7 linked regions of the Homo sapiens genome follow. The protein of the gene in region 3 interacts with the protein of the main gene of each other region in a pairwise test. Each region holds a gene or a part of one and is shown on either strand. Other genes may lie near its edges.

Region 1 (4,300 bases), on a different chromosome or scaffold from region 3:
CCAGAAGAAGAGCCAAAATCAAGAGGATCCAAAAAGAAAGCAAGAGACTTACAATGGGAGCTGGGTTGGCAGGCCGCACGCTGGGAGGCTGGAGGGGTGAGGAGAGTCAGAACGGTGGTTATTGCGGGCACCACAGAACGGGGAGAGACGATGGCAGAACTCCAGGGAGGCTCTTGTGCTCAGAAATGCCTCCCCAGACACACCCACCTCCCTCTTGCTCCCAAGCAAGCCTTCCTGAGCCCGTGGCACCCAGATTTTTACCCTCAGGTGCACAAGGCTTTGGGGTTGAGGGGTAGGGTATCCCCACTGGTTCCTCTCGAGAGAGAGGAGGCTGGGTTTGATAGAGACCTCATTGCTGTCTGTAGCTCCCACAGCCAAGAGCATTACTTCCGGTGCCATATTTCACCCGTAAGCTGAGAAGTGGTATTTGTTGAAGGCCTATTGTGGGCCGAGTCCTGGGCTTCAGTGCTTTCCAAAGAGGGAAGCAGCCTCAGCTCCTGTGTCCCTGGTGAGGCAATGAGGCTCAGAAAGATTAAGCAACTTGCCCAAGCTTGCCCGGGTGGAAGGGATCAAATCCAAAATGGCAGCCAATTCTGTCTGACTGTATCCAGCACACTTTCTGTCATCCCTAGGGCCAGGGCCAGCGCCAGGGCCAGGGCCAAAGTTTGGCTGCCCTGCGAATGTTCCCTGGGGCTCCACCAGTCCTGAAGTCAGCGTGGCAGGAGGCAGGTGCACTGTCTGTACCATCATGGGCCATAAAAAGGCTACATAGACAAAGCGCCCCTCCTCCCAGTCCCCACTGCTTGAGTGGCCAGAGGAAGGGCTGCCCACCTCCTTGTCGTGGATCCTGCCCCACCCAGTAGACTGTTCTTGCCCTGGCTGGTATCCCATTCTCCCTGGCTGCGAAAACCACATTCCACATTCATCCATTCTTCGAGTCCCTAAGTGAGTGCCAGGCACTGTGCAAATGAACGACCCACAGTCCCAGCCCTCTGGGGCCTCATGGGCATAGGGAGATGGGGGTGGAGTGACAGGGACAGACACGCAAACAGTTACAATGGGGTGCTGTGAACTGGCATGGCACAGATATGTACAGACTCCGTGGGGGCATGGGGGGAGCATCCAACAATATTCTGGGCAGGGAGGACTCCCAGAGGAGCGACACTTTGGCAGAGCATGGAAGGGCGATTAGGCGTGTGCTGAGGGCAGGCTGGCAGAGGGTGCTTCCGGGACCAGGGACAGCATATGCAAAAGCATGGTGGCCCGAGAGGGCCTTGAGTGAGCCGTGGAGGTTGCATGAGCTTCGTGGGTTGGGGGTGAGGCAAGGAGGTGGACTGGGGCCAGACTGGGGAGGAATTCGTATGCCCTGCTGGGGAATTTGGGCTTTGTTTAAAGGGCTGGGGACTTTTAAGATTTTTAAGCAGGGAGAGAGTGTGATCAGATTTGCTTATAAGAAGGTCACTGTGGCAGCGGTTGGGTGTGGGGGGTGGGGAACTGGACCCCTGTAGTCATGGTGAGGAATCCCAGAGGCCTGGGCCACATCGGTGGCTTTGGGAGGGAGATATGTTGGTGCCTTGGAGAGACATAAAGAAAGGGTAGTGAAGAATCCAGGGCAACACCCAGGTCCCCGGCTCTGGGTGCCCAGCAGACAGAGACAGGGAACTCTTGAGTGGGCAAGATGTGGCCCATAGGCCCTGGTGGCCTGCTGGCTGGGGCCAGCCTCTCAAACCCTCGGTCCTTCCTGCTGTCTGCTCAGCCACCCAGGGCCTCTGTGTTGAACTCACTTTTTGTCTGCGCCCCCTGGGCCTGGGTGGGAAACAGACAGGCTGGGAGAACGGCACCGTGGAGAAGGCAGGCTGAACGGGGACTGCGCGGGGATTCTGTTAAAACAAAAGGCACCGGCCGGTGAGGAGAAGCATTAATAGAGCCAAGGAGAAGCCGAAAGGCAGATGCAGGGGCAGGAGGCAGAGAACAGGCAGGCAGGGGGATGCAGCAAGGGGGTTAGGGCCACACGGAGGCGGGAGCGGAAAGGGCCAGGCTTCGGTGAGCAGCGCAGGGGGACAGTCTCCCTCCAGCTCTTCCCTCCCCTTCCACCCGCAGGGGAGAGAGTCAGGGAAGGAGGGAATGAGAGATGAGGACCAAAGGGTGAGGAGCCCAGATTTGCTGAGGGCCTACTGTGCACTTCGCTCATCTCAGGGAGCTCCCTTGAATGCCAAAAGGGTAACAGCAGCTCCCATCCAGCTGCCGGTGCCCTGTGGGAATGTGGGCCCAGCATACCCTAATCTTCCCATTTTTCACGTGGTGTTGGTATCTCCTGACCTTCTTTAGTTTTATTTATTTTATTTTATTATTCAAACAAAAAGATTTTAGAGATGGGGTCTTGCTATGTTGCTCAGGCAGAACTCTAATTCCTGGGCTCAAGCGATTCTCCTGCCTCAGCCTCTTGAGTAACCAGGATTGCAGACCTCCACCACCATACCTGGGTCTCCTGACCTTTTAGATGTTGGCAACGCATTCAAAGTTTTTAAAACACAGAGGTCACACAGACCCTGGTGTGGGCCCAGGGGCGCCATTGTGTGACCTCTGATATCTGTCTCCTCAATGAATCACACAACCACCCATGGGGGGCAGGCAATGACCATGCTCATTCTACAGATGACAAAACTGAGGCTGAGAGAGGCAAAGTTGCTTGTCTAAGATCCCACAGATGACGAATGGCAGAGCTGGGAATTTGAACTGGATTCAGTTTGGTTCTTGAGCCTGGGCTCTTTCTAGAACAATATGCCCTCCTTACCAGGATGGAAATTGACGGATGAAGAGAAAGGGGCAGCTGAGGAGTCTGGGAGACCAAGGCAGGTGTTCCAGACAGAGACAGTGACACAGAAGGAGGGGCAGAGTGACAGAGGAGAAGGGGCGGGCAGGTACTGGGACAGGGAAGCAGAGGTTGTCCCCAGAGTGACCTGGGTAGGAGATTGGCTTGGGTCCCCCCAGCTGGGCCTAAGCACAGCTACGCTGGGCCCTGCATCCCAGCCCCTGGGACCGGTGCCAGGTGGACAGTCTGACCTGGAAGCTGATGTAGGACAGCTGCACAGAGCCATTGACGGAGATGGTGTCCACACGGTGGAAGGGCACGCGGTGGAAGTACTGCACGAAGAGGCTCCCGTTCACCATCACCTGCCAGAGGAGAGCACGTATTTCGGGGGAGGTGCCCCAGGCCGGGATGGGGACCACCCCTGAGCTCCTGGTCCCTCCTTCTAAAAAATGAAGACCTGAGTCTGGTCTTCAGTGTGGGGCCAGTTACAGGGACGTGTGTGTGGCCCGAAGTGCATCAACCGGAGTCTCTACTGGGCTCCAGTCGGGCTTTCCATTCTTCTGGTTGTTTCCTTCCCCTTTCTTCTCACTCCTCGATTTCCAGCCTGGTTAGGAGGCCATATTGTTCCAGAAAGAGCCCATGCTCAGGAACCAAACTGAATTTCCTGGGGTTTCATTTATTTATTATTTTTCCTTCAACTTTTTTTTTTTTTTTTTGAGATAGAGTGTCACTCTGTCAGCCAGGCTGCAGTGCAGTGGTTCAAGCGATTCTCCTGCCTCAGCCTCCCGAGTAGCTGGGATTACAGGCATCCACCACCACACCAAGCTAATGTTTGTATTTTTAGTAGAGACGGGATTTCACCATGTTGGCCAGGCAGGTCTTGAACTCCTGACCTCAAGCCATCTGTCCTCCTCACCCTCCCAAAGTGCTTGGATTATAAGGGTGAGCCGCCGTGCCCAGCCCCTTCAACTTTTATTTTAAGTTCCAGGGTATGAGTATAGGATCTGCAGGTTTGTTAACTAGGTAAATGTGTGCCACAGTGTTTTGCTGCACAGATCAACCCTTCACCTTGGTATCAAGCCCAGCATCCATTAGCTAATCTTCCTGATGCTCTCCGTCCCCGACCAGGCCCCAGTGTGTGTTGTTTCCCCGCTTGTGTCCATGTGTTCTCATCGTTCAGCTCCTACTTATAAGTGAGAACTTGCGGTGTTTGGTTTTCTGCTCCTGCAACGGCTTCCAGCTCCATCCATGTTCCTGTAAAGGACATGATCTCATTCCTTTTTAGGACTGCAGGGGTATTATTTAAATATGCATAAAATGCTCACGGGGAGCAGAGGAGAGGTGACATCGGGTTGCATACTGAATGGATGGGAACATCCTTATCTCAGATAAGCATATTCAGACTGAGTTACCCACCGGCTTCTCAAGCCCAGAGACCTACTGTGCTTGCAAAGGTAATTTGCAATGTGCTTACAGAACTATAACCGT
Region 2 (4,300 bases), on a different chromosome or scaffold from region 3:
TGGCTTTTCTCATTGTCATTACTAATCCACTACATTCACCAATTAACCTGGCGCGTCTGGCTGATGCCTCTGCTGTCTTTGTCCTTTATCTTAAAACGTTATTATGATACTATGTCACAGATATTTTACAACAAACACTTTTTGGATGTGGCACACAGCTGCCTTCTGTACAAATCCTAGCCCAAATATATGCAAGCAGCTGAGATTCATCAAAATCACAGAAAAGAAGTTAAAGAGAACCAACCATCCACTGAGATTTTCAAATGCAGTTGTGACTTGTGCCTTCGGAATTCAAGGTACATGTATTTGGTTGCTCTTCCAACATCCCTTCTTGGTATGTGTGGTCAGTGTTTTGAAACAGACTTTGTAGAGAGAAGAGATACAACAATAAAAATTCTAGGAGAGTGTGAATTCAGCAGGCTTTCTCTAATACCTGCAAGCATTCAGCTCCAAAGACCATCTGGTGGCACTACGTTTGGCCGCCTTGGGCCCTGATCTCAAAGGCTCCAGATTTTAGAGGGGACTAGATAGTGACTCTCCATGACCCAGAGCCTATTCCTCACAGGCTTAGGTTAAAGTAAAATCTTCCAGTCCTATTGCATGCCACAGTGTCCATCTGGTTTTAATACCTGGAAGTCCAGAAATGCAAGTCCCCAGTGTCAAGGCTAAGGTCAGGAAAACCACTCTGGAAAATGAGTTGTAGTCCATCTCCCAAAGTATGCCAGAACCCTTCATTTAACTGCTTCGATTCACTCAATCATCAATTATTTCCTTAGTCTCTACTAGATGCCCGTGATAGAGTAGAGAAAAACAGACCAGATCTCTGCCCTCATGAGGCACTCGTGCAAGATGCTGAGCCCGCCACCCCCGGCAAGCAGGGCGGTCCAGTAGGCCGCATGTGTCTCAGCCCAGAGAGAAGCGTGGAGCACAGTGGTTAAGAGCACAGGCTTTGGAGTCAGGCAGATCAGGTTCCAGGGCCAGCTCTGTCACTTACTGATTGTGTGGCCTGGGACAAGTGACATAACCTCATTCCAGTTCCTTATCCTTTCTTGTAGTTGTTCTGACTGTTCAATTAGATGAGCTGATGTACGCAAAGCAGTGAACACTCTAGAGTGTCCTGCCCTTGGCAAGCCATCAGTTATTACTAATATCAGCTCTAGTACAAGATAAAAAACCACCTACACACAGTTTGCCAGTGCCACTGGGAGAATAACAAGAGTCAGCATGGTGCTTTCTTTAAAACCCCGTAAGTGAACATGCACAAAATCATCTTCAGCTTTGGTGAGAAGGAAGGACTCCTTCTATTTTAGATATTTTGACTACTCACAAAGGGCTGCGCATGATGGCCTTTGGAAATCCCTTTGTATGTCTGCATTAGAAGAAATGCTCAATACTAGGAGGAAAAAGACACTCAGTCACCCCAAAAAGACTCTATCTAAAGCACTACAGAGACACCCAAAAATGTGCGTGTGTTGGGGAGAAGAAAGTTGTGTGATGTTTTTCTAAACTACGTTTCTCCATTTTCCGGTCATACTGAAAGTCATTTGAAAGGGTTTGTATAATATTTTCTCTAAATCTGCAAATGCTGGGATCATTTACCTTTTCCTTTTATGGTGGTAATGGATTTAGAATCGCTCCAGTTTCCTATTCCACGACTAGTCACCGCAGCCACCTTTTCAAATCAGAGGGTGAATTAATATGAAATAAAGGCAATACACCATACACCATACAGTAAGAATACTGAATGAGCTAAAGGGGTGAGATTTTGGCAGTGAGGCTGGAAAAATTTTATACAGAGTGATCCAGAATATTCAGAGGCCCCAGCATCTGAAATAAGAGGGCAAAAAAGCCAAGGGAAGGAGCTTGGGTAAAGGGCATTATGACAGTCCTGAGATCAGAAAATTTCTATTGATCCACAAATATCAAGGTTCTTCTAAAGGGCAGGTGTATGGGGGGGTGTGTTCATAAATACACACATATACAAAAAGGGTACTGACAAAATTATCAGTGTGAGAGTCATGAATGTGCACACTTAATGGTCTCAGCAAACATGTTGTTCACAAAATCTATCTCTTTCTGCTAAAAATACTAAAAATATATTTCATAAGAACCTCATAAAATCAGTTTAGAAAGACTACTTATCATAGCTCTGCATCATCCTGCAGCTAAAGATAAGCAGGAAAGAGCTGACTGCAAAAGTATAGGAGCTGGAAAGCTAGCAGAATACCGGAGTTAAAAGCAGGGAAAGCGGCATTCCCATAAACGCCCGGTTATCTACAGAAACTCTGATGTCAAGCTCTTTGTGGTGTCCATTTAAGAGACTGAAAGAAACTCTGAGCTCCCCCGTCCCAGGGCAAGAAGTTGGGTATTTTGCAGATTACTAATATGCATCTCACAAAGGTGAGTAGAGAGTTCTCACAAAACAGCAGCAATTTCGCTCAGTTCTAAGACTGCATGGATGGCTGGAATGGATGACGACACTCACTCTGACGGTGTATAGAGTGTTGACCAATAAGTTCTTGATTTCTGTAAAGTTACTAGCAGCCCTCTGGGAGGCCCACATCTTGGAACCACTCCTGCTGTATTCTACCTAAAGGGAGAAGAAAAAAAATGTGAGTAAAGGGAACCAAAGGTCCAGGGCATCCTAATATCTTGCAAGGAGGCTGGAGGAGAGAAAAGATGGTGAGGAGCAAAATGTTCTGACGGATGGGTCATCACCTACAAAGCTAAACCAAATCAACCCCCTCGTCATACAGAATACCCAGAAATCTCCTAGCACCCCCAACACACATACAGCCAACTCATGGAAGGTACTTACAATGTACTCACGGATGAGGCCATGGGTGTGGATGGGAGGAGCCCAGTGGCCTACAATCACACCTTCTGCTTCCCTGGGGAGTGACAGCTGGAGATTTCGAGGGGCATCTGGCACTAGAAAAAGAGTCAACTCAAGGTTAAAACCCATCTGCATAGCAGCCAACCAGAGGAATTTTCCTGGGCTTAGAACAAGGACAAGAACGACTCCACAGCCGGCATTGAGACTATCCACTAGAAAGGCTGCTAGCTTGGTCGTCACATTGAAAAGACACTTTTCCTCTTCTTCCAAAAAGCAAGGTGTGCCGTCCACACATCACATCATGGCTCAGTTGAGTGTGTGGTAAATTTGTGGCTCATAAGGGCTGCAGGATAGAATCACTTGGGCAGGCTGAGTCACCACTGACCCTGAGACTTCCATGCTGAGATCTTAATTGTCAATGACAGCACCTGCTGCCTCTGCTTCTTGTACAACAAAAACTGTACTGTGGGCATGACTACCAAAAAATAAGACTAATTTTGTAACATCACAGAATTTCTATATCCAAATGAATTTGATCATCTTCAAAGCAGGCTCCTTAATGAGTTTAGCGCTAGCATATTCAGGATACTTTAGGCAATGAAAAAAGATGACATTCAAGCAGACAGTTGCTCATGTCAACTACTTTGAAGTAGGGAGGAGGCGAGGAACTCTCTTAGACACATAAATTTGGTAAATTTCTTAAAAACTTAGCCACAAAGCCAGGTGCAGTGGCTCACACCTGTAATCCCAACATTTTGGGAGGCTGAAGTAGGTGGATTGCTTGAGCTCAGTAGCTCAAGACCAGCCTAGGTAACACGGCAAAACCCTTTCTGTACAAAAATACAAAAAGCTAGCTGAGCATGGTGGCACACACCTATAGTCTCAGCTATGCGAGAGGCTGAGGCGGGAGGACCACCTGAGCCTGGGAAGACTGAGGTGGTGAGCAGTGATTGCGCCTCCACTGCACTCCAGTGTGGGTGTCAGAGTGAGACCTTGTCTCCAAAAAGAAAAAAACTTAGCCACAAAATTGCTGATATGCCTCATATTTTAATGACGATGACCTCCTCCTAAGTACCAAGTACTAGGAAATATCTAGAGGAGGAACGTAGAGGTAGAAACTAGACAAAAAATGCAAGAGGGCAATGGTGGAGAGAATCTTAAATTAACTTAAGGTACAAGAACAGTCTCTGATGCAGTAAGAAGAACAGATGTTTGACAACTCTGGCAAGACTATAAAGCTTAGCCACCATACTTCTGTACATGTGAGGCACACATATGTTCCCACATTCCTGAGAATACTCAGAAAGACCCTCACAAACCCCGACCTGAGGTCTTACCCATGCCATAAAAATTAACTGAAACACTTACATCCCTCTGGGGTCCTCAGGGTCACAAAGTCATTGGTGTTGTGTGCCTTGCTGAGACACTGAACCTGTACTTTAACCTGATACGTGGTATCTGGTT
Region 3 (4,300 bases):
AAGACAAGTGATACTGGCTTTATTTTACAGTTAGAGAAACCAAATTTGGGAGATTCAGCATCTACCCAAGAATCAAAGCAAAGAACTACGGCAAAAATACCCAACCCCAGAGAACATTTTTAAAAACCATGTTTTAATAAACTAGAGCACTGTATTTCTTTTTAGAGTTGAATTTTATTTAGATCAAGATCCACAGTCACAGTGAATAGAGGGAATACACACACTTATACATTGTATTTGGAAATAGAAACTGGATTCCTTGAGGAAATATGATTTGGGACAATGTCCCTTAGAAGCAGCGAAGTCAAAATCAGTTTGTATTTATGTATTATAAAGACTATATTAGTAGTAGTAATTTTCTGAAAAAAGTTTCCAAACCAGGATGGCCATAGCAGCCACAAAAGGAAGCAAACAAGAACAAGTCCTGATGGAGCAATTTATGAAGACAGGCAGCATAGAGGGAGAAGAACCTGTCTGTCAACCCCACACACGCTTTCCCAGGTAATTGCTCACCTCTGCCCTGTCTGACCTCTGTTTCTAGAGCCCAGCTCAGACTTACTGTATGTCACCCCTCCACCACTATTCCCTGGCTTTGCTAATTTACCTGTTCCTGCCACAGATTTACCTAAAGAAAGAACTTGTTCAGTTTATATCTTTTCAACCCCCTCTGGCTTTGCCCTTCACATTGTGTCATCAATCCTTTAAGTCTGTTCTTTAGAGCCCTAGGGAATCATTTTTTATTGGAGCCAGGAAAGTGACACCACATAATATAAGATCTTTCAAGATGTCACAGCATATAATACAAGTTACTAAGTAATGAACAATTATCTACAAAGTCAGAACTTAGTTAATATCTTTGGATTATAGGTCTTGTTCACTACAAAAACAGATAAAAAAGCAGTCATTGTATACTGTAAGAGCCTGAAACTTGTAGAGTAAGCAGCAAAATGATACTTAACTTTAAAAAAAAGACAACAGTATTATATTTTGCAATTTTTAAATTTATTTATTATTTTTGAGACAGGGTCCCACTTTGTCACCCAGGCTGGGATGCAGTGATGCAATAATGGCTCACTGCAGTCTTAACCTCCCAGGCTCAGGTGCTTCTGTCACCTCAGCCTCCCACGTAGCTGGGACTACAGGTGTGCGTCACCATGCCTGGCTAATTTTTGTATTTTTCGTAGAGACAAGACCTCACCATGTTGCCCTGGCTGGTCTTGAATTTGTGGGCTCAAACAATCTGTCCGCCTCAACCTCCCAAAGTGCTGGGATTACAGGTGAGCCACTGTGCCCGGCCTGTAATTTTTTATGTTGCCTATTGATAGGCACCACTGCTGCTCTTTAAATGTCAATGAAATTATTTTGGAGAAACTTTCTTCACCTTTACTAGGTTTCTTCTTACGGTTTAAGCTCAGCTACCTCTTCTTTTCTGCCTAAAACTTTTCTCTTGATCAAATATCAGAATGGAATATGATTTAAAAGTTTCATTTTAGACGTCTCCTGAAAGCTGAGCATTTGTTATCTTAAAGCCTCTTACCAGTTTGGATAGATATGGATCTTCCAAAATTAATGAGCTCCTTAATATCGACACTGTTTATCAACATAAAGGATCAATTTAGGAAGATTATAAAAACTGAAGTTTCCGGAACAATAAATGGGAGAATTAATCGTAAGTACTTCCTGAGTTCTTCACAGGATTATAGAATTTTATATATGGAAGTAATTTTAAAAATAATCTGGTCTAGAGTTTCCTAAAGTTTGTTCCATAAAATTACAATCCCATGGCATTGTATAGAAAAACGGGAGTCCCAGTGATCCAGTATGTCTGGCTGTAAACCTCCCTTCCTCGCCATTCACACAGTGTACCTTAAAATACTACAAAGGCTACAAAAATCCTCCAATAAAGCCTATAATTTTGTTTAATCTACTAAAAATGTAACCCCCCCTTTCATCTGTAAACATGCCTCAGAACACTCAAGAGGCAGTGAGCTAGCCCTATCCACTCACCTGACAGCCACAATTTACACTAGTGTTTTTCACTTACTAAACAAAAAATGATTTTCCTGATATCTCATGCTTAAAATGCCATCTAATAATTACATCTTCACTAAAATTTAAAAAGTATGGTTCGTCAGTCATTCCAACACTATACGTATGTGTACCATTTTAACTTATTTGCTTTCTAGAAAACTTGGCCTTTCTGTAAACTTTCATGGCTTAAAGTACTTTACATAGACAAATTACTTTATAAAAGTTTAGTGCTTTTTACTATTGCTGAGATATATCCAGCACTGTCCCTACTTTTAGTATAAAAAACCAAAAGTGATGTTATTGTCTAGAGTCATCTACCAACCGCATTGGAACTGTAGCCTAGCTCTAAATATGAAGAATTAAAGTTGGATTTAAAATGAGTTATAAACTAATCCATACTAAAAAATTTCTACCTATTAGTAACCTGAAAACAAGTTTAGAATTTTTCAGTACTTTAAATTCACTGAAAATAAGAACAATCTCAGCACAAAAATATTTAGTAATGTCAAGATTAAGAGACTACAGCTGACCCTGAACAACACAGGTTTGAACTGCATGGGTTCACTTGTACATGGATTTTCTTCAGCCTCTGCCACCTCTGAGACAGCAAGGCCAACCCCTCCTCTTCCTCAGCCTATACAACATGAAAATGATAAGACTTGTACTATGATCCACTTAATGAAGAGTAAATATATTTTCATTATGATTTTAATAACATTTTCTTTTCTCTAGATTATGGTAAGAATACAGTCAGTATATAATACAGACAACATGCAAAATATGTGCTGACTATGTTATTTGTTAAGGCCTTCAGACAACTGCAGGCTATGAGTAAAGTTTTGGAGGAGTCAAAAGTTACACACAGATCTTCAACTGCATGAGCAATCAATGTCCCTAACGCCCATGGTGTTCAAGAGTCAACTGTATTATCTTACCACTGCTTTAATATTTTCAGTGGTCATTCACCAACGATAATACAAAAGCAGTTTTGAACCACATATAGACATCAGTCTTTTACTAATTTTGGCCAGGGTAAGACCTGGCAGTGGTACTCAGGAATCAGTTACTATTGAACCAGTTTAATTCCTCTCGGTTTTTCATTACAGAGACGCACAATTAGTACCTCTTTCAAAGAGCAGAGATATTTATTATTAAAATACCAATAAAAAAGAATTAGACAGCTTTGGTTAATTTAGAATAACTATAACTATATTATGGTTATTGCTATCCCAGTCTCTGTCATTATCCTATATATCCAAGATATTGGGTAAGTAAAGTGAAAAGTTCTTGTTTTCATATGCTGACAAGACATTCTAGTATTGCTATGTCCAAATACAAGCTTTATATAATACAGCATTGGTGGATGCTTGCAATTATTGAAACCTAAGTAGACTTTTGTCTGCTTTTTAAATAAGAGGTAGTAAGTAAAAAAAGAGATTCGGACACGAATAATTTTGAAGTATTTGGCTCAAATCCAGAACACTGTCAAGAAAATCTCAGCGAAAAACTATTCATGATTACTGATAAGTAACATCCCTATTATTATCAGATGTTGTTGAAAATGCTTAACTGAGTACTTAGTTCCTGCTTATTGTTAAAATACAATGTTATAGTACCTCATATTACAAATAACAGATTTTAATTTCACCCCGATAATGTCATCCAGATTTATAACTTTAAATACTACCCTTAGTAACTGATGAATCCCCAATTTGTGTTTCCAGCCCTAACCTATTCCCTATATTCCAGGTTCGTATCTACCTATCAGCATCATACCATGGATGTCTTAACAGGCATCTCAAACTTACTATGTCTAAAACAAAATTTGACTTTTCTTCCCCAAACTTGCCCTACCACAAATCTTCTCTATTTTCGGTAAAGGAACCTCAGAGATGCTCAAGCCAAAAAGCTGAAAATCACTCATAAATCCTTAGTCCCACATATCTACTAAATTCTAATCTCCACATAGCAACTATGGCAGTATTTTAAGATTGCTCATTCCATTCCCTACTGAAAACATTCCAACAGTTTTTATTATATTTAAGATTCAGCCCAGATTACTTATCTGGGCCCTTATCTCCTCTGACCCCTTCCACTGCTTTCTTGCTTGAGCACCTCACTGCAGCCATACTGTTACCTTACTTTTCTTCCAGGACCCTGATACATCCTCTTTCCCCTCCCTGGAACATTGTTCCTTCAGCTCTTTACATGGTTCCCTCTAGCTCTTCATTCAGGTCATGGCTCAAATGTTACCACCTCTAAGCGGCCT
Region 4 (4,300 bases), on a different chromosome or scaffold from region 3:
CTGTCCCATTCTGGACTCAGTGATAGTTGTGATCAACTAGCCAGCTGGTGTTCGAAACTATGTTCTCAAAAACTTGATTTTAAATGTATGTACGTTTAGAAATGAAGAGAATGCTGGAAGCTATTTAATTTTCCAGAAAACGTGGTTTTCTTAGATTTAAAACAAATGAACTACCGGCAAAAATAATCATTTAGGAAACTAAGTTATGTGACAAATGTAGCCACTTCATTTAATGAAGTACAGAAAAAGTCTTAATAATGTTAAAGAATTTATAAAAACAGAGCCTTAAAATATACTCATCCTACACCCTGAAGACTAATTACATAAAATCTTTTTTCAATAAATATTTTTCACATTCAATAAGCATTGCCCTTCAACAAATATTTATTGAGCCAATAAACTTCCACAAATTACTTTGTGGTGAGATCTTTTTATGCATATTAAATTGGTTTGTTTTTAATTCTATAACGATGAGATACTGAAAATCTATTTACATATCACTAAGCAATTCTATACCACCTATTCATTTGGTGACTTTCTGTGAATACATACCACAAACAGCAGATTTATTCATGAAAACTGGCATTCAAATCATACTTCAAATATAGTCAATTATTGCTATTTGTGACATTTATGTTCATAAAATCACCACAAACACTGAATTTGCGAATATATAATCACTGCTACCAGGGGAAGTATAGGGTTAGGTTCCTGCAAGCCCCTGGTCACAACGTTTTCATCAACTGATCAATACATAACACATATGTACACATACATACATGTACACAGACCATATACAGAGATATGGATAGATACAGATATGGCCTTTAATTTAAAATGGGATATATATATATATATATATATATACACACACATAATCAGACAGACAAGAAAAGATGCATATGATATATTATTAAGGGGAAAAAAGGGAAGTTATACAATACTATGTATATGATTCCTTCTGTAAAAAACAAGAAACAATTTGCTTATACTATATATGCATACACACTAAACAGCTAACAAGGAAGGAACTTTGGCAATTCCATTTTTTACAATGAGCATGTGTCAGTTTTATAAGCATACAGTAGATTCTCAAAAAATGTTTTCTTATTATGGCCACTTAAAAAATAAAATAATGTGATACAAAACTCACGTTGTTTGAAAATGACTCCTATAATCTTCGTGTATTCAGATAATTTCTGCTAAATATAATTAAAAACAAACACTTCATATTTCAAAGATAGAATTTCAGTAAACATTTTCAAAATGTTCTCAAAAATTCGCAAAAAATGTTCTCAACACTTGCCAGTCCCCCAAACTGAAATGTTCAATGATCTGTAACAGGGATTCACAAGCTTTTACTATACGGGTAAATATTTTGTGCTTTACAGGCACACATGGTCTCCGTTACACATTCTTTGTTTTTGTTTCTTTCCTTTTTTGTTAATAACTCTTTGGGAATATTTTTCAGATTTCTTAGCTCAGAACCACATAAAAACAGGCCACAGACTGGACTTAGCTTGCCAGCCGTAGTATGCCAACAAACCAGCATTTAGAAGTCTGATATTTTAAATATATTATACCAAAGGCATCAGAGGTCACAACAGTTGAGTTTTATTCTACGTTAAATAAATAAGGTAGCATTATAGCAATTAAAATTACAAGTTGATTAATATATTGAATTCTATATGCTAGACTACAAATCAAATGATGGAACAACACAGTAAAATAAATTTCAAGCACTTATATTATATAACCGTAATCATGAGTGTGCATGTGCATGTGCATGCCTGTAAAGCATGCACTTCTCCACTTGAAAAAAATCAGCTGAAATTTAACTAGCATACATCAAAGCTCAAGTCTCCTTTTATGATCATTAAAACCATTCACTCATTTAAATAATCAAAACTAGTCAGTGATTTGTTTTAGAGATCATCAACCCCTGAAAATTAAGAACTAATCAGAGACTTGTAGTGATTCATTTGGTTTTAATTTAATTTATGAGATATTATAAAATATTAATCAACCTTCTAAAATACTACTCTTTGGAAGTTTATATTCTTGAAACTTTTTAATATTTACTTTGTCAGTAACCATCACTATACTACCTTTTTTCCTGAAAGACAGCTTTTATATATTTGATTTTATCTAAATTTGAAAGATCTTCATTATTATCCAGCTGTTACTATCAAATGAAAATTTCATTATGAATAATAAACTGGGTCAAAGTAAAAGCCTAAAACGAAAATTCATCCTGCAAAAGTAACCAAATACTATCATACAATAATCTTACCTAGACTGGTGGGTTTTATCAGTTCATCCAGTAAATCATAAAATGGTAATTTTTGAAGTTTTATATCCGGATGGACTGGGTGAAGAGCTGATGTAAGATGTGGGAGTTCCAGTTCATGTTTAGGTCCCAGAAGAGAAACAGGGAGTAATGGCGATGATGCAGGGTGACCATCGTAAGTGAGTTGTGGAATGGTAGATGGAGACAAAGTTGCTGGCATAGGACTTGAATGTACGTTGGGGATGGACAAGTCTGCAGGCGTCATGATTTTCTGTGGGAACCGCCGCCTATAGAGTTCCTTAATTTTCATTTGCACAGCAGGACTACAGCCAGCCTTTAGCAAATGCAGGGCTTTTGTGAGAAGTTCGTGTTTGCGTCCGTGCTTGTTTCTCCCGGCGTAGCCCAACAGTACTTGGAGTTCAGAAACTCTAAGGCTCATAACCATTTGCTTAGAGAAAAAACAAAATGTAAAACATTAGTATTCCAATAATATAATTTACACTATTAAATGACACTTTATTATAACCCCCTTCTTATGGTTTACTTAAGCAAATAAAGGCCAGCTCACTTATAATCCTATTATTTCAAACTTCAAATTTAATCATTTAACGTTAAGTAACCAAAGAAATTTAAAATTAATATTCATAAATTCATTGACTTCTACCCTTGGTTATAAGAAATATAGGATAAAGTATACACCAGGGAAAACCACACCTCACTTTATTCCACTGTTTTGATGAAACTGTCAGGTATTTATCAAGCACTTACTGAGTCTCCAGGAGAATGTCGAGTGCTATGTAGATGGCAAAACGTAATGATGTGCTCTCAAGAATATTTTGTTTTCTTGGGGAAGAATTATAAGTATATATGAAACAACAAACAGTCCATCTCAAACACCAGATGTAGGCAGGATATCAATAGCTATTATCAAGTGTTACTTACATTCTGTACTAACTCTGGAATTTGTAGACTTAAGTTACACCTTTTTTGACCAATTATATATCAGATATTCTATTTGATATTTTCACATGGAATGTCATTATCTTTACAACTCCGCAAGGTATTATCCTGCCTGATTTATACATGAGGAGACAAGTTCAGAAAGGTTAGATAACTTATAAAGCCATAAAGCTACTAAGGAGTAGTCAGGATTCAAACCCAGATATGTCTGATTCTAAAGCCCATGCTCTTTCCACTAAACCATTAGGAAAAAGACAGAGCTGGACTCATATTACTGACTCTCACTTAACTTGCAAGGCCAAGCTAGAAGTCCAGCAACCCAATTCATATGCCATAATGCATGAGGCTGCAGTAATCTATTTAACTTTGTTTACCTATGTTCGCAAACTTATTTAGTCCCCCTTTCTCCTTTTTCCCCACCTACTAATAGGAAATGACCATCTATACCAATCCTCCCATTTTAAAGTGGTGGAAAATGGAATCCAAAGAGAAGAAATCACTTACCCAAGATCACACAGCTATTAGCAGAATCCTAAAAGATTGCATCACCACTGACAGGGAGTATTAGGATAAAAAGACACATGTAAGCTTACCATTTGCTCTCTATTTCTCCAACTAATTCCTTCACCTCATACCAAATACACAAAAGCTATGCTTATGCTGCCTTCCCTAACTCACCACCACTCACAATGATAACCCCAGCCAATTCTCTAAGGGTTCTTTGCAGGTGGCAAAACCATTAAGCAAAAAATAAAATACTGAGGAGAAAAGTATATAAAGAGCTTTATAAGCAATATAGCTGGTTAATCAAAGAAATATGAGTCCTTCCTTTACTTCTCTGGCTTGGAAAACTCTTTCCTCAAGGTCCAGCTTTTGTTAGCCTTTGGCCATTAGCCTTGGTAGGATGATCTTTACTCTCACTATTTTTACAAAGGCCACTTTTCGCATCTGTATTTTAGCATTTATTTTGCTTTATTGTAATTTTCTGTTTACACAAGTGATTCTATAAGCAAACCAGGGTTCTCCATGGTACACAACCATATTACCCTC
Region 5 (4,979 bases), on a different chromosome or scaffold from region 3:
GTGCTCGGAATGTCCTCTTTCTTTTTTGGAAAGACATCTACAAGCTTCCCAAGTCAGGATTAATTGCTGTTTCCTCTCTCTGTCTGCTATGTACACATGGCCTGCGCTTCTCAGCCCATGTGTATGTCTTTGGTGTCAGAATGCACGTGTCTCACTCTACAGTAAGAAGGAGAGAGTAGGAATAGGTCCCGTCCAGCCACTCTGCTCCAGATTCTTGTTGGTGTAAACTCCTTCCATCTTCCTGGCTACACTACTTAGAGGTAGGAATCATTCTTTTCCTTTACACAGCTGATGATGCTCGGCTGCAGAGAATGAGAGCAGGCTGTGTTGTTTTCATCTTTGTGCTTCCCCAGGCATGTTAGTAGGTGCTTCATATATGTCTGTTGAGTGCATGACTGGCAAGGGGTTGCACTGAGATCTCTAGAACTCGGTTGCTCTCAAATTATAGTTTGCACAAGAAGTGCCTTACTAAATGTATATTTTTGTAATTTTTCTCCATAGATCTGGGGTCCTGGAATTTGCAATCCAACACTCCCCTCCCCTACTCATGGGATATTAAGAAGCACTTTTTGGCTGGGCGAGGTGGTTCACACCTGTAATCCCAGCACTTTGGGAGGCCAAGGTGGGCAGATCACGAGGTCAGGAGATTGAGACCATCCTGGCTAACACGATGAAACCCCGTCTCTACTAAAACAAACAAACAAAAAATACAAAAAATTAGCCAGGCATGGTGGCATGTGCCTGTAGTCCCAGCTACTCGGGAGGCTGAGCCAGGAGAATGGCGTAAACCCGGGAGGTGGAGCTTGCAGTGAGCTGAGATCGCGCCCCTGCACTCCAGCCTGGGCGACACAGCGAGACTCCATCTCAAAAAAAAAAAAAAAAAAAAAAAAGCAAAAAAAAAGCACTTTGTTTTTTTGGCTGGACTAGGTGGCCCATACTTTTTTTTTGTTGTTGTTAGAAGATCTCGTCCTGTTGCCCAGACTGGAGTGCAGTGGTGCAAGCTCACAGCTCACTGCTAATTTTTTTTTTTGTATGTTTGTAGAGATGCGGTTTCACCATTTACCCAGGTTGGTCTCGAACTCTTGACCTCAGGAGATCCGCCCGTGCTCGACCTCTCAAAGTGCTGAGATTACAGGCGTGATCCACCGCGCCTGGCGAAGACGCATATTTTTAATAGGACCTAATATTTACCTGAAATTATCTTGGTTATTTACCAATGTAAGCTCCAACAGGGCCAGGCTTCTGCTTGCTTCTACCCTGACGCGTGTCGGGGCCCTGGCCCAGTGCCTGGCACAGATCAGCAGCGCGCTAAGCACGTGTTGAATGGACGACTACCTTTCAGGGCCTTCCAGCCAGGGTATCTCATGCGTCTGTGTTGAGCGCTTGCTGAGTGACAGAAGCTATGAGCGGAATGAACGCACGCACGACTGAGGAGGCTGCAGACCGCGGGCCAGGGTCTCTGTCAGCCCCGGCAGCGGGTGGGTGACCCCGGCCGGGGGCGGGGCGGGGAGGACGCGGCTCCGCGGCGCCATGACGTCACGCCCGTGCAGCGCCGCGGCCGCGTGCCGGGCGGCGCCATGACGTCATACCCGCGGAGCCTCCGCCGCGCGTCGGCGGCGCCATGACGTCACGCCTGCGGAGCTGCCGCCGCGCGCCGGTGGGGCGCGAGCGTGTGCGGGGCGCGGGCGCGGGCGCGGGCGCGGGCGCGTGCGGGCTGCGAGCCGGGAGGCGGCGGCGGCGACGGCGACGGCGGCGGCATGGCGGAGAGCGAGGCCGAGACCCCCAGCACCCCGGGGGAGTTCGAGAGCAAGTACTTCGAGTTCCATGGCGTGCGGCTGCCGCCCTTCTGCCGCGGGAAGATGGAGGAGATCGCCAACTTCCCGGTGCGGCCCAGCGACGTGTGGATCGTCACCTACCCCAAGTCCGGTGAGCCCCGCGCCGACCGCGCCCGCCACGCCATGCCCCAGCCCTGCAGCGCGGCCGCGTAGACGCCGCGCCCGCGCCCGGGGCTTCTGCTGGGCCGGGTGGTCGCCCTTGGCCTCCGCCCCTGCCGTGCCCACCGCTCTCCCGATGCTCGGATCCCTGCGGGGCGGGGTGGGGTGGGGTGGGGGTGGGAAGGGGCTTGGTTCTCATCTGGGGAAACCAAGGTCAGAGACCTTCGGGAGCGGCCCCTTCCGTGGAGATGGAGCCTATTTGGCCGGCGCTGCAGGAGGATGGGCCCAGGGCCGCCACCCATCCCTGCTTCTCCCTTTACCTGGCTGGCTGTGTGACCTTGGACAGGTCACTCAACCTCTCTGTTCCTGAATCCTGCCCAACCTTTGATGAGTGCAAAGTCCTGGTGTTCACCTGGGAAGGGAGATAACATGGGCGTCAGGGCTTTCAGCGTGGAAACGTAACGTCCCTCCTTTCCAGCCTGGGCTCCGGGTGGGGGATGGGACCAGTCCCCGCCTGGAGTGCCTTGCTTGTACATTCTCTTGTTTCAGGGCTGCCTCCATCACCGAGGCAGGACCTGGGGCATTCACATTTCCCAGCATTAGCTGACGTCACTTTCACAATAACAGCTGTGTGAGCTAGTGGTGGTCATTCCCACTTTACAGTCTAGGCACAGAGGCTCAGAGAGGGGAAGAGGCTGGTCCAAGGTCACTCAGCTGGTGAGTGGCTGACCTGGGAATTAAAGCTAGGCTGGTCTGTTTCCAGACCTGAGGTAGGAGATTGTATAGTACCCCATCTGAGGTTTTTAGGGAAAGGAGGTAGCAGCTTTCCTGTTCTGTAAACATGCCCTGGGATTTCCTTGTTGCCACTGTATTTGAGGCAATCACAGCGTGGTTTAGAAGGTGTCTGGCTCTAAGGTCACGCCGGACCAGCAGTCGGGCAGTTTCAGGAAAAGCTGTAGGCTTGGCTGTTGTAGCTGTATGGAGTTCCAGACACCTGAGGGCAGGTCTCTGACATTCTTCTGAGGAAGATTGGAGTAGGGACTCTCAGTGGAGGGTGTTGGTTGGAGAACAGAGCGTTCGATGGGCTGCTATCTTGAGCACATGCCAGTCGCCGCATGGGGTGGGACCTAAAATGCTTTAGGAATGGCTAAGCGTGTCGTTGGCTTCTGTGGCCACTCATTAAGTCCTGCGGGCCAAGTGCTCTATCGCTGTTAATCTGTGAGGGACTCTTACACCTTTTTTTCAGAGGCTCAGAGAAGGCACAAATTGTTCGGAGTCACACAGTTGCTGAGGGACAGAGGTCAGGTCTAGCTAGGTCTCCCGGTCCACGGCCAGCCTCTCCCCTGCCTTATGGGTGCTCCGTTGCCCTTGGAAAACCGTGAGGGCCCAAGAAGGAGGGGGACCTAGCCTTCTTTCTTGGAGGCTTTAAAATGCTGGAAGTCTCAGCCACTTAGGGATTTTGAGGTTTGTGTCACTTCTCTGAGGCCCCTCCAAGTGGACTTCTGGTAGCCCAGTTCATATTTTCTTTTCCTTTCCTTCCATCTGCTACTGGGGATGGATTTGTAGCAGGCATCAGTGCTTACACATTAAGAACCTGGCTTCGGAGTTGGAAGTCCTGGGTTTGAATGCAGTTTTGCGGCTTACCAGCAGAGTGACCCTGGGCAGATCATAGAATCCCATTGAGCTGTGGTCTCTGCGGAGGGAGAAGAGACCACCTCGGCCCGCTGATGTGTGGCTGTGAGGATGAGCAAAATGGCGGGTGAGAACGCTTAGCCCACGTCCAGACACACGCTGGAAAGGCTCGTGGTTAATGCTGACTTTTAAGCCCTGAACACCTGTTGTGCCCAGATGCTTTGCTAGGGGCTGGGGAAGCCGAGAGGGCCCCATCTGGTGCCTGTCCTTAGTGAGCTCTCAGTCTGATGGGGGAGACATGGTTGGTGCTGGGGTTGGGGCAAGTAGCCAGGACTAACAGGTGCCCCATTCACCTGCCATGGCAGGGAACCCACGGGCCTCCTTGGATTTCCAGTGCCCAGGTGTAGGAGATCCTAATGAACTTGCAGGTGGTCAGAGCCGGAAGGGCCTGGTCCCTTGTCAGCCCCTTCCCACCCTCTGCTGATGGAGAAACTGGGGTTCAAAGGGGTGGTGGGGGCTTTCTGGTGGCTAAGGCAATGATAATTAGATCCTGCCTTCGCTTCCTGTCCGGTATTTTTTCCCACAACCCCGTGCTGCTTGCTCGGATTCTTTTTGTGCTTGCGACATTCTAGCTTAGATGGCGGGTTAGGACTGTGCTCTCCAGCGTAGGACCCTCTGCCCACAGGCGGCTGCTTACATCTAATGAATTAAAATGAAATAAAAGTGGAAATTCTGTTCCTCAGTAGCATCACCATGTTTCAGGTGCTCAGTAGCCACATGGGGCTAGCGGCTGCCGTATTGGGTGGCGCAGATATGGAGTGTTCCCATCACAGCTGAAAGTTCTGCTGCACAGCGCCAGGTAAAACCGTGATCCAGACAGTAGGAGCCCATTGTGTCTTCTGAGAAGGACCTTTCTGTTGATGACCGACTTTGTTCCTATTCATTCTTACAGCGTAGTTGGTCCTGGGACGGTGGTTGTATTAAATCCGATTGTGTCTGTGAAAATATTTTGTCCCTGTGTGTTGGTTTGATGCAATCACTGCCACTGGTTTTGTCAACAGGTTGATTTGAATTGGGTGCTCGTCCCCGAGGGGGCACAGCCCCAAAGTCATGGAGCTTGGGCTTTGAAATACGGTCCCTGGCTCAGCCAGAGCACCCACTGCCCTGAGTTTATTTTGCCCCTGGTTCCGGCCAGTCCTGAAGTGTGTGCGCATTCTCACTGATGCAGACGGAAGCTTCTGGGCCTGGGCGTGGGTGAGCCACCTGGTTTCTTTGAACCTCAGTTTGCTCATTAAAAATGAGAGGATTTGACCAGATTGATTCATTTAAGTCTTACATTTTCAGACAACTCAGGGGTTGAAGCTGAGGGGAGCTGAAGCTGAGGGGAGACTCATGGTGTGCAGGTCCCAGGCT
Region 6 (4,300 bases), on a different chromosome or scaffold from region 3:
AGATGGATTAAAGACTTAAACATTAGACCTAAAACCATAAAAACCCTAGAAGAAAACCTAGGCATTACCATTCAGGACATAGGCATGGGCAAGGACTTCATGTCTAAAACACCAAAAGCAATGGCAACAAAAGACAAAATCGACAAATGGGATCTAATGAAACTAAAGAGCTTCTGCACAGCAAAAGAAACTACCATCAGAGTGAACAGGCAACCTACAAAATGGGAGAAAATTTTCGCAACCTGCTCATCTGACAAAGGGCTAATATCCAGAATCTACAATGAACTCCAACAAATTTACAAGAAAAAAAAACCCCATCAAAAAGTGGGCAAAGGATATGAACAGACACTTCTTAAAAGAAGACATTTATGCAGCCAAAAGACACATGAAAAAATGCTCATCATCACTGGCCATCAGAGAAATGCAAATCAAAACCACAATGAGATACCATCTCACACCAGTTAGAATGGCGATCATTAAAAAGTCAGGAAACAACAGGTGCTGGAGAGGATGTGGAGAAATAGGAACACTTTTACACTGTTGGTGGGACTGTAAACTAGTTCAACCATTGTGGAAGTCAGTGTGGCGATTCCTCAAGGATCTAGAACTGGAAGTACCATTTGACCCAGCCATCCCATTACTGGGTATATACCCAAAGGACTATAAATCATGCTGCTATAAAGACACATGCACACGCATGTTTATTGCGGCACTATTCACAATAGCAAAGACTTGGAACCAACCCAAATGTCCAACAATGATTGACTGGATTAAGAAAATGTGGCACATATACACCATGAAATACTATGCAGCCATAAAAAATGATGAGTTCATGTCCTTTGTAGGGACATGGATGAAATTGGAAATCATCATTCTCAGTAAACTATCGCAAGGACAAAAAACCAAACACCGCATGTTCTCACTCATAGATGGGAATTGAACAATGAGAACACATGGACACAGGAAGGGGAACATCACACTCTGGGGACTGTTGTGGGGTCGGGGGATGGGGGAGGGATAGCATTAGGAGATATACCTAATGCTAAAGATGAGTTAATGGGTGCAGCACACCAGCATGGCACATGTATACATATGTAACAAACCTGCACATTGTGCACATGTACCCTAAAACTTAAAGTATAATAATAATAATAAAAATAAATAAATAAATAAAACAAAAAACAATATCAATTCTTCAAATCCATGACACAGGATTTTTCATTTATTTTGTCTTCAGGTTTTTTTTTTTTAATCTGTTTTATATTTTTTAGTGTATAGACCTTTCTCTATCTTGGTCATTTATTCCTAAGTATTTTATTCTTTTTGGTGTTATTGTAAATGGGATCATTCTCTTGGTTTCCTTTTGGAATATCTATTGTTGGTGTAAAGAAATGCTCCTGATTTTTGTATGTTGATTTTGTATCCTGCAATTTTACTGAATTCATTTTTTAGTTCTAACAGTTTCTTAATGGAGTTTTTAGGGTTTTCTACATACAAGATCATGTCATCTGCAAACAGAGACATTTACTTCATCCTTTCCAATTTGCGCTCCTTTTATTTCCTTTTCTTGGCTAATTGATTGGCTAGGACTTCCAAGACTAGTTGAGTATTACTTGTCTGAAATATTTGGGATCAGAAATGTTTCAGATTTTTTTGTAGTTTGGAATATTTTCAGAATACCTACCAGTTGAGTATCCTAAATTTGAAAATTCAAAATCTGAAATGCTTCAGTGAGCATTTCCATTGAGCATCATGTTGTTGCTCAAAAAGTTTCAAATTTTGGAGCATTTCGAGTTTTGGATTTTCAGATTTAGAATGCCCAGCCTGTAACTATGTTTGAATAGAAGTGGTGAGAGTGGGCATCCTTGCGTCGTACTGGATCTTTGAAAAAAAACTTTCAGTTTTCCCCCATTATGATGTTAGCTGTGGGAATTTTGCAAATGACCTTTATTGTGTTGGAGTATGTTCCTTCTATACTTATTTTTTTTAGAGTAAACTGAATGGATGTTGAACTTTGTCAGATGCTTTTTCTGCATCTATTTTTGTCTTTAATTCTGCTACTGTGGTGTATAACATTGATTGATTTGCGTATGTTAAACCAACCTTGCATCCCAGAAATAAATCCCAGTTAATCATGGTGTATAATTTTGTTAAAAAATATTTCAACTTTCACTTTAAATATAAGCGGTACATGTGCAGATTTGTTTACATGGGAATATTGTGTGATGCTAAGGTTTGAAGTATGGATCCTGTCACCTCACCCATGAAGTGAACAGAGTACTCGACAGGTAATTTTTTTGATGTGCTGTTGAATTTGCCTTGCTAGTATTTATTGAGGATTTTTGCATGTATGTTCTTTAGTGATATTGGCCTGTAGTTTTCTAGCAGTGTCTTTGTTTGATTTTGATATCAGAGTGATGCTAGTCTCATAAAATGAATTTGGAAGTGGAATTCCCTCTTGTTTTATGAAAGAATTTCAGAAAGATTGGTATTAATTTGTCTTTGAATGTTTGATAGAATTCACTGTGAAGTCATCTGGTCCTGGGCTTTTCTTTGTTGAGAGGTTTTTGATTACTTCGTTAATCTCCTTATTATTGGTCTGTTTAGGCTTTCTGCCTCTTCTTGATTCAATCTTGGTAAGTTGCTTGTTTCTAGGTATTTATCCATTTCTTCTGTGTTATCCAATTTGTTGTCATATAATGTTCATAATAGTCCTTTATGATCTTTTTTATTTCTGAGAAATCCATTGTATGTCTCCTCTTTCATTTATTTAAATCTTCTTTTTTCTTTTTTTAGTCTATGTAAGGGGCTGTCGACTTTATCTTTTCAAAAAAATAAGCTCTTAGTTTTTCTTTTTTTTTCTTTTTGAGACGGAGTCTCACTCTGTTGCCAGGCTGGAGTGCAGTGGCACGATCTCGGCTCACTGCAACCTCCACTCTCGGGTTCAAGCAATTCTCCTGTCTCAGCCTCCCGAGTAGCTGGGACTACAGGCCTGCCCCACCATGCCCAGCTAATTTTTATATTTTTAGTAGAGACGGGGTTTCATCATGTTGGCCAGGATGGTCTCGATCTCTTGGCCTTGTGCTCCGCCTGCCTCGGCCTCCCAAAGTGCTGGGATTACAGGTATGAGCCACCTCGCCCGGTCCCAGTTTTGCTTTTTTTTTTTTTTAATTCTCTATTTTATTTATTTCTACTCTAGTCTTATTATTGCCTTTATATGCTTATTTTGGGCTTAGTTTGTTATTCTTTTTCTAATTTCTTTAAGTGTGAAGTTAGGATGCTTATTTGAGATCTTTTTATTTCCACTTGGGCATTCATTGCTATAAACTCCCCTTAGTACTGCTTTTGCTTTCCCATAAGTTTTGGTATGTTATGTTTTGTTTCTGTCTCAATAATTTTAAGATTTTCTTTTTTAATTCCCTCTTTGATCAATGATTGTTCAAGAGGGTGTTGTTGTATTTGTGAATTTTTTCATTTTCTTTTCTGGTTTTCTTTTTTTTTTTTTTAATTGAGACAGAGTCTCGCTCTGTCGCCCAGGCTGGAGTGCAGTGGTGCAATCTCGGCTCACTGCAATCTCCGCCTCCCAGGTTCAAGTGATTCTTCTGCCTCAGCCTCCCAAGTAGCTGGGACTACAGGTGCATGCCACCACACTCACCTAATTTTTGTATTTTTAGTAGAGACGGGGTTTCACCATGTTAGCCAGGACAGTTTCGATCTCTTGGCCTTGTGATCCGCCCACCTCGGCCTCCCAAAGTGCTGGGATTACAGACGTAAGCCACCATGCCTGGCGAATTTTTCCATTTTCTAGCTGTTATTGATTTCTAGTTTTATACCATTATGGTCAGAAAAGATACTTGGTGTGATTTTGATCTTCTTAAATTTGTTAAGTCTGTTTTTGTGACCTAACGTGAGTTATCCTTCAGAAAGTTCCATCTGTGCTTGAGAAGAATGTGTAGTCTTCTGCTGTTGGTTGGCAAATTCCATATATGTCTTTTGGGTCCATTTGATCCATAGTGTTGTTCAAGTTCACTGTTTATTGATTTTTCTGTCTGGATGATTTATCTATTATTAAAAGTGGAGTATTGAGCTTTCTTTTTTTTATTATGTTGCTGTCAATTTTTCCTTTTAGATTTGTCAATATTTGCTTTATATATTTAGGTGCTCTGATATTGGATGTATATATGTTCACAATTTTTATGTCTTCCTATTGAATTTACCCATTTATCATTATATAATGACTTTCTTTGTCTTTAGAAACAACTTTTAACTTAAAGTCTATTTTGTCTGACATAAACTTAGC
Region 7 (4,300 bases), on a different chromosome or scaffold from region 3:
GTTTCACTGTGCTTATTCACCAGGTTTCGGAGTTCTGAGGGGTTGTTGGTTGAATACACTTGTGCTAACTCGTGGTATGCATTGCTAAGAGGCTAAAGATGCAAAGGAGGGAAAAAATTCAGATTAAAACTTCAGAAGAGGCCAGGTGTGGGGACTCACGCCTGTAATCTCAACACTTTGGGAGGCCGAGGCGGACAAATCACCTGGGGTCAGGGGTTAAACACCAGCCTGACCAACATGAAGAAACCCCGTCTCTACTAAAAATACAAAATTAACTGAGCGTGATAGCACATGCCTGTAATCCCAGCTACTTGGGAGGCTGAGGCAAGAGAATCGCTTGAACCCAGGAGGTGGAGGTTGCAGTGAGCCAAGATCGTGCCACTGCACTCCAGCCTGGGCAACAAAGCAAAACTCCGTCTCAAAAAAAAAAAAAAAACCAAAAACAAACAAACAAACTTCAGAAGACTCAAATGTGTATAGGAAGCAAAAACACACTTACATACTATTTTTTAAGCAAGTATATCCCATATTGTCAGGTAACTACACACTGTTACCCTACAAATTATAATTTACCCAAAGCAAATGCCTGGTTTTTAAGACCAGGGATAGAAAGTCACTATGGAGTAATTCATTTTCCACAAAATTTTGTACTACAGACCAAGTAATAACACAGCAGGTGAAAACCCACTGAATTTAGTGAAGGCACACGTCTTCATCAGTGCTTCTGTTTTTCTACTGATAAATCATATAGAGAAGAAAGGAGTCAAAACATTCATCATTCCCAACTCTCCCTCTCTCTTTCTCACACCTCACCAGATGCAACAGGACAATCTGCTACTTCTGCTAGCAAGAAGGAAGACAGGGCCGGGCATGGTGGCTCACGCCTGTAATCCCAGCACTTTGGGAGGCCGAGGCGGGTGGATCACGAGGTCAAGAGATCGAGACAATCCTGGCTAACACGGTGAAACCACATCTCCACTAAAAATACAAAAAATTAGCTGGGCATGGTGGCACACACCTGTAGTCCCAGCTACTCGGGAGGCTAAGGCAGGAGAATCGCTTGAACCCGGGAGGCAGAGGTTGCAGTGAGCTGAGATCACGCCACTGCACTCCAGCTTTGGTGACAAGAGCAAAACTCCATTTCTAAATAAATAAATAAATAAATAAAATGAAAAATATAACAAAACAAAATAAAGGCCAGGCTCAGTGGCACACACCTGTAATCCCAGCACTCTGGGAGGCAGACGCAGAAGGACTGCTTGAGGCCAGGAGTTCAACACCAACCTGGCCAACATAGCGAGACTCTGTCTCTAGGGAAAAAAAAAAAAATCAACTGTTATAGGAGCTTAAACATCTATAGCTGTAAGTATCTAGAGCACAAGTTTGAAAACGGGTTCCTGAGAAATATTCCATTCCAATCAGGTAATGAGAATGTGTAGCAGACATTCAATAAATGTCTGCTCACCTGAAGCTGCTAGGAGAGCTAAATCAGTATAAAACGAAGTTACAGAACTGTATCATTGCAATTTCTTTATATACTCAACATGCTCACGTAAGAAATCAGTTTTATGTAAAAAACTTACCTTAATGAATCTACCCACAATTTGAGATGTATATTTTGGTAGCTGTTGTACTTTGCCAAGTAATATCAAAGACACTAAAATATACTTTTTATATGATTCCAACATGATATGACTGACCGCCATGGCAGGAGTAGTTATAGCCTAGGCAAGAGAAGAATGCTTGCTGTAAAGAGAACATACCACAGTAGCAAACAACAATCAACCACATGTATCACATTAATTATAAGTCAATAATACTTTTTAAATGTCCCATTATTTTTATAACAGCCTTATTGAGATAGAATTCATTTTATTTTTATTTATGCATTTTTTAGAGACAGGGTCTCGCTCTGTCATCTAGGCTGGAGCGCAGTGATGTAATTATGGCTCACTGTACCCTCAAACTCCTTGGGTTCAAGCAATCTTCCTGCCTCAGCCTCCTGAGTACCTGGGACTATAGGAGTGGGCCACCATGCTTGACTAATTTTAAAATTTTTTGTAGAGGCCAGGCGCGGTGGCTTATGCCTGTAATCCCAGCACTTTGAGAGGCCGAGGTGGGTGGATCACGAGGTCAGGGGATCGAGACCAACCTGGCTAACACAGTGAAACCCCATCTCTACTAAAAATACAAAAAAATTAGCCGGGTGTGGTGGTGGGCGCCTGTAGTCCCAGCTACTTGGGAGGCTGAGGCAGGAGAAGGGTGTGAACCCAGGAGGCGGAGCTTGCAGTGAGCTGAGATTGCGCCACTGCACTCCAGCCTGGGCGACAAAGCGAGACTCCGTCTCAAAAAAAAAAATATTTTTTGTAGAAATGGAGTCTCACTATGTTGCTCAGGCTGACTCCTATGTTGCTCACTATGTTGTTCAGTCTTGTACTCCTGAGCTCAAGCAATGCTCCCACTTCAGCATCCCAAAGTGCTAGGATTACTGGCATGAGCCACCACGCCTGGCCACTTTCTTGTCTTTTTATTTTTGAGGACGAGTCTCTGTTACCCAGGCTGGAGTGCAGTGGCGCAATCCCGGCTCACTGCAACCTCCATCTCCTGGTTCAAGAGATTCTCCTGGCTGGGCGTGTTGGCTCATGCCTGTAATCCCAGCAATTTGGGAGGCCGAGGCGGGCGGATCACGAGGTCAGGAGATCAAGACCATCCTGGCTAACATGGTGAAACCCCATCTCTACTAAAAATACAAAAAATTAGCCAGGTGTGGTGGCAGGCACCTGTAGTTCCAGCTAGTCACGAGGCTGAGGCAGGAGAATGGTGTGAACCCGGGAGGCGGAGCTTGCGGTGAGCCGAGATCGTGCCACTGCACTCCAGCCTGGGCGACAGAGCAAGACTCCATTTCAAAAAAAAAAAAAAGAGATTCTCCTGCCTCAGTCTCCTGAGTAGCTGGGATTACAGGCGCCTGCTGCCAGGCCCAGCTAATTTTTGCATTTTTAGTAGAGACATTTTCACCATGTTGGCCAGGCTGGTCTTGAATTCCTGACCTCAGGCGATTTGCCTGCCTCGGCCTCCCAGTGTGCTGGGATTACAGGTGTGAGCCACCTCACCCAGCCTCTTGCCTTTTCTTTTTTTTTTTTTTTTTTTTGAGATGGAGTTTTGCTCTTGTTGCCCAAGCTGGAGTGCAATGGCACGATCTCGGCTCACTGCAACCTCCGCCTCTTGGGTTCAAGCAATTCTCCTGCTTCAGCCTCCTGAGTAGCTAGGATTACAGGCATGCACCACCATGCCCAGCTAAATTTTGTATTTTTAGTAGAGATGGGGTTTCTCCACGTTGGTCAGGCTGGTCTCGAACTCCCGACCTCAGGTGATCCGCCGGCCTCGGCCTCCCAAAGTGCTGGGATTACAGGCGTGAGCCACCGCACTCGGACGCCTCTTACCTTTTTAACACCCACTCATCCTGATATTTCAAGATCAAGTTTGCTCATGAGTTAACTATATTTGGCTACAGCAATGATAATGCATCCAGTGGCTACGAAGTGCATTTTTATAATTTTCCGAATGCGTAGTCTTAAAGAGAAGCCACCTTGAAGATTTAACCTGACTAGACACGTGCTTTAATGACACCATCTCTGCCTACTGGCACCTTATGGTGGCCCTCCTCAGGTCCCCTCAACAGGACACATCAACCACTCATTGTGGTATGGTTCAGAGCCACGGATGTGTGTACATGTATGCATGTGTATTATGTATTAGAATTCCAACTAAACCGAGCTCTCTGAAGGTTTTAAATATCCTTTATTACTTAATACATGCTATGAACTAAATAGGAACTTACGAACATCTAACTAATTTACCTTAAGTAAAGTGGTTTATTAATCAATATTGTGTATCTCTTTTTCAGAGTCTGAGTAAACCTCCAGAATATTCTACCAAATTGTGTACTATGTTTCATTACACAGACACAGAAAGGGTGGGAGGGACTTTTACTGTGTACTCCTTTCTACCCTTTAAATTTTGAATCAAGAGAATGTTTCACTGATTAAATAAAACTTAACAAAATACCACACATGGTTTTAGAATAAGACACAACCAAGATCACTCAGTTCAATCTCTTCCTTATATGCAAAGGAAGCTATAAAGGTCAAGAGATGTCATAACTTATTCCAAATCAGATAAGGTATAAGTGCAAGCCTAGATTAGAACCCCCAGACAAGTGCTCTTCTATGCACTGGCGCTGCTCCTCAACTTAGGGATCAGGTTACCACTATTTACATGATCACAGAGAAGTAGTCTCTGA

The links.
Region 1: the proteins of NDUFV2 (region 3) and LGALS9C interact in binary tests that used the Homo sapiens proteins (3 or more experiments, as listed by UniProt).
Region 2: the proteins of NDUFV2 (region 3) and SORL1 interact in binary tests that used the Homo sapiens proteins (3 or more experiments, as listed by UniProt).
Region 4: the proteins of NDUFV2 (region 3) and PIAS1 interact in binary tests that used the Homo sapiens proteins (3 or more experiments, as listed by UniProt).
Region 5: the proteins of NDUFV2 (region 3) and SULT4A1 interact in binary tests that used the Homo sapiens proteins (3 or more experiments, as listed by UniProt).
Region 6: the proteins of NDUFV2 (region 3) and SPATA22 interact in binary tests that used the Homo sapiens proteins (3 or more experiments, as listed by UniProt).
Region 7: the proteins of NDUFV2 (region 3) and COPS3 interact in binary tests that used the Homo sapiens proteins (3 or more experiments, as listed by UniProt).

What each region holds. Positions count from the first base shown.
Region 1 is NC_000017.11:18,486,521-18,490,820, reverse strand, and holds part of LGALS9C (galectin-9C), read right to left. Parts: intron 3,922-4,300; exon of another isoform or gene 3,905-3,921; coding exon of another isoform or gene 3,881-3,904; intron 3,175-3,880; coding exon 3,064-3,174; intron 1,881-3,063; coding exon 1,785-1,880; intron 89-1,784; coding exon 53-88; intron 1-52. UniProt on the Homo sapiens protein: Binds galactosides.
Region 2 is NC_000011.10:121,605,476-121,609,775, reverse strand, and holds part of SORL1 (sortilin-related receptor preproprotein), read right to left. Parts: coding exon 4,205-4,300; intron 2,932-4,204; coding exon 2,819-2,931; intron 2,591-2,818; coding exon 2,486-2,590; intron 1,673-2,485; coding exon 1,600-1,672; intron 1-1,599. UniProt on the Homo sapiens protein: Sorting receptor that directs several proteins to their correct location within the cell. Along with AP-1 complex, involved Golgi apparatus - endosome sorting.
Region 3 is NC_000018.10:9,129,592-9,133,891, reverse strand, and holds part of NDUFV2 (NADH dehydrogenase [ubiquinone] flavoprotein 2, mitochondrial precursor), read right to left. Parts: intron 1,670-4,300; exon of another isoform or gene 1,494-1,669; intron 502-1,493; exon of another isoform or gene 382-501; intron 1-381.
Region 4 is NC_000015.10:68,084,744-68,089,043, reverse strand, and holds part of PIAS1 (E3 SUMO-protein ligase PIAS1), read right to left. Parts: intron 2,739-4,300; coding exon 2,294-2,738; intron 1,200-2,293; exon of another isoform or gene 1,154-1,199; intron 1-1,153. UniProt on the Homo sapiens protein: Functions as an E3-type small ubiquitin-like modifier (SUMO) ligase, stabilizing the interaction between UBE2I and the substrate, and as a SUMO-tethering factor. Catalyzes sumoylation of various proteins, such as CEBPB, MRE11, MTA1, PTK2 and PML.
Region 5 is NC_000022.11:43,859,161-43,864,139, reverse strand, and holds the start of SULT4A1 (sulfotransferase 4A1), read left to right. Parts: upstream 1-1,626; 5' UTR 1,627-1,757; coding exon 1,758-1,926; intron 1,927-4,979. UniProt on the Homo sapiens protein: Atypical sulfotransferase family member with very low affinity for 3'-phospho-5'-adenylyl sulfate (PAPS) and very low catalytic activity towards L-triiodothyronine, thyroxine, estrone, p-nitrophenol, 2-naphthylamine, and 2-beta-naphthol.
Region 6 is NC_000017.11:3,451,157-3,455,456, reverse strand, and holds part of SPATA22 (spermatogenesis-associated protein 22), read left to right. Parts: intron 1-4,300. UniProt on the Homo sapiens protein: Meiosis-specific protein required for homologous recombination in meiosis I.
Region 7 is NC_000017.11:17,260,383-17,264,682, forward strand, and holds part of COPS3 (COP9 signalosome complex subunit 3), read right to left. Parts: intron 1,725-4,300; coding exon 1,584-1,724; intron 93-1,583; coding exon 1-92. UniProt on the Homo sapiens protein: Component of the COP9 signalosome complex (CSN), a complex involved in various cellular and developmental processes.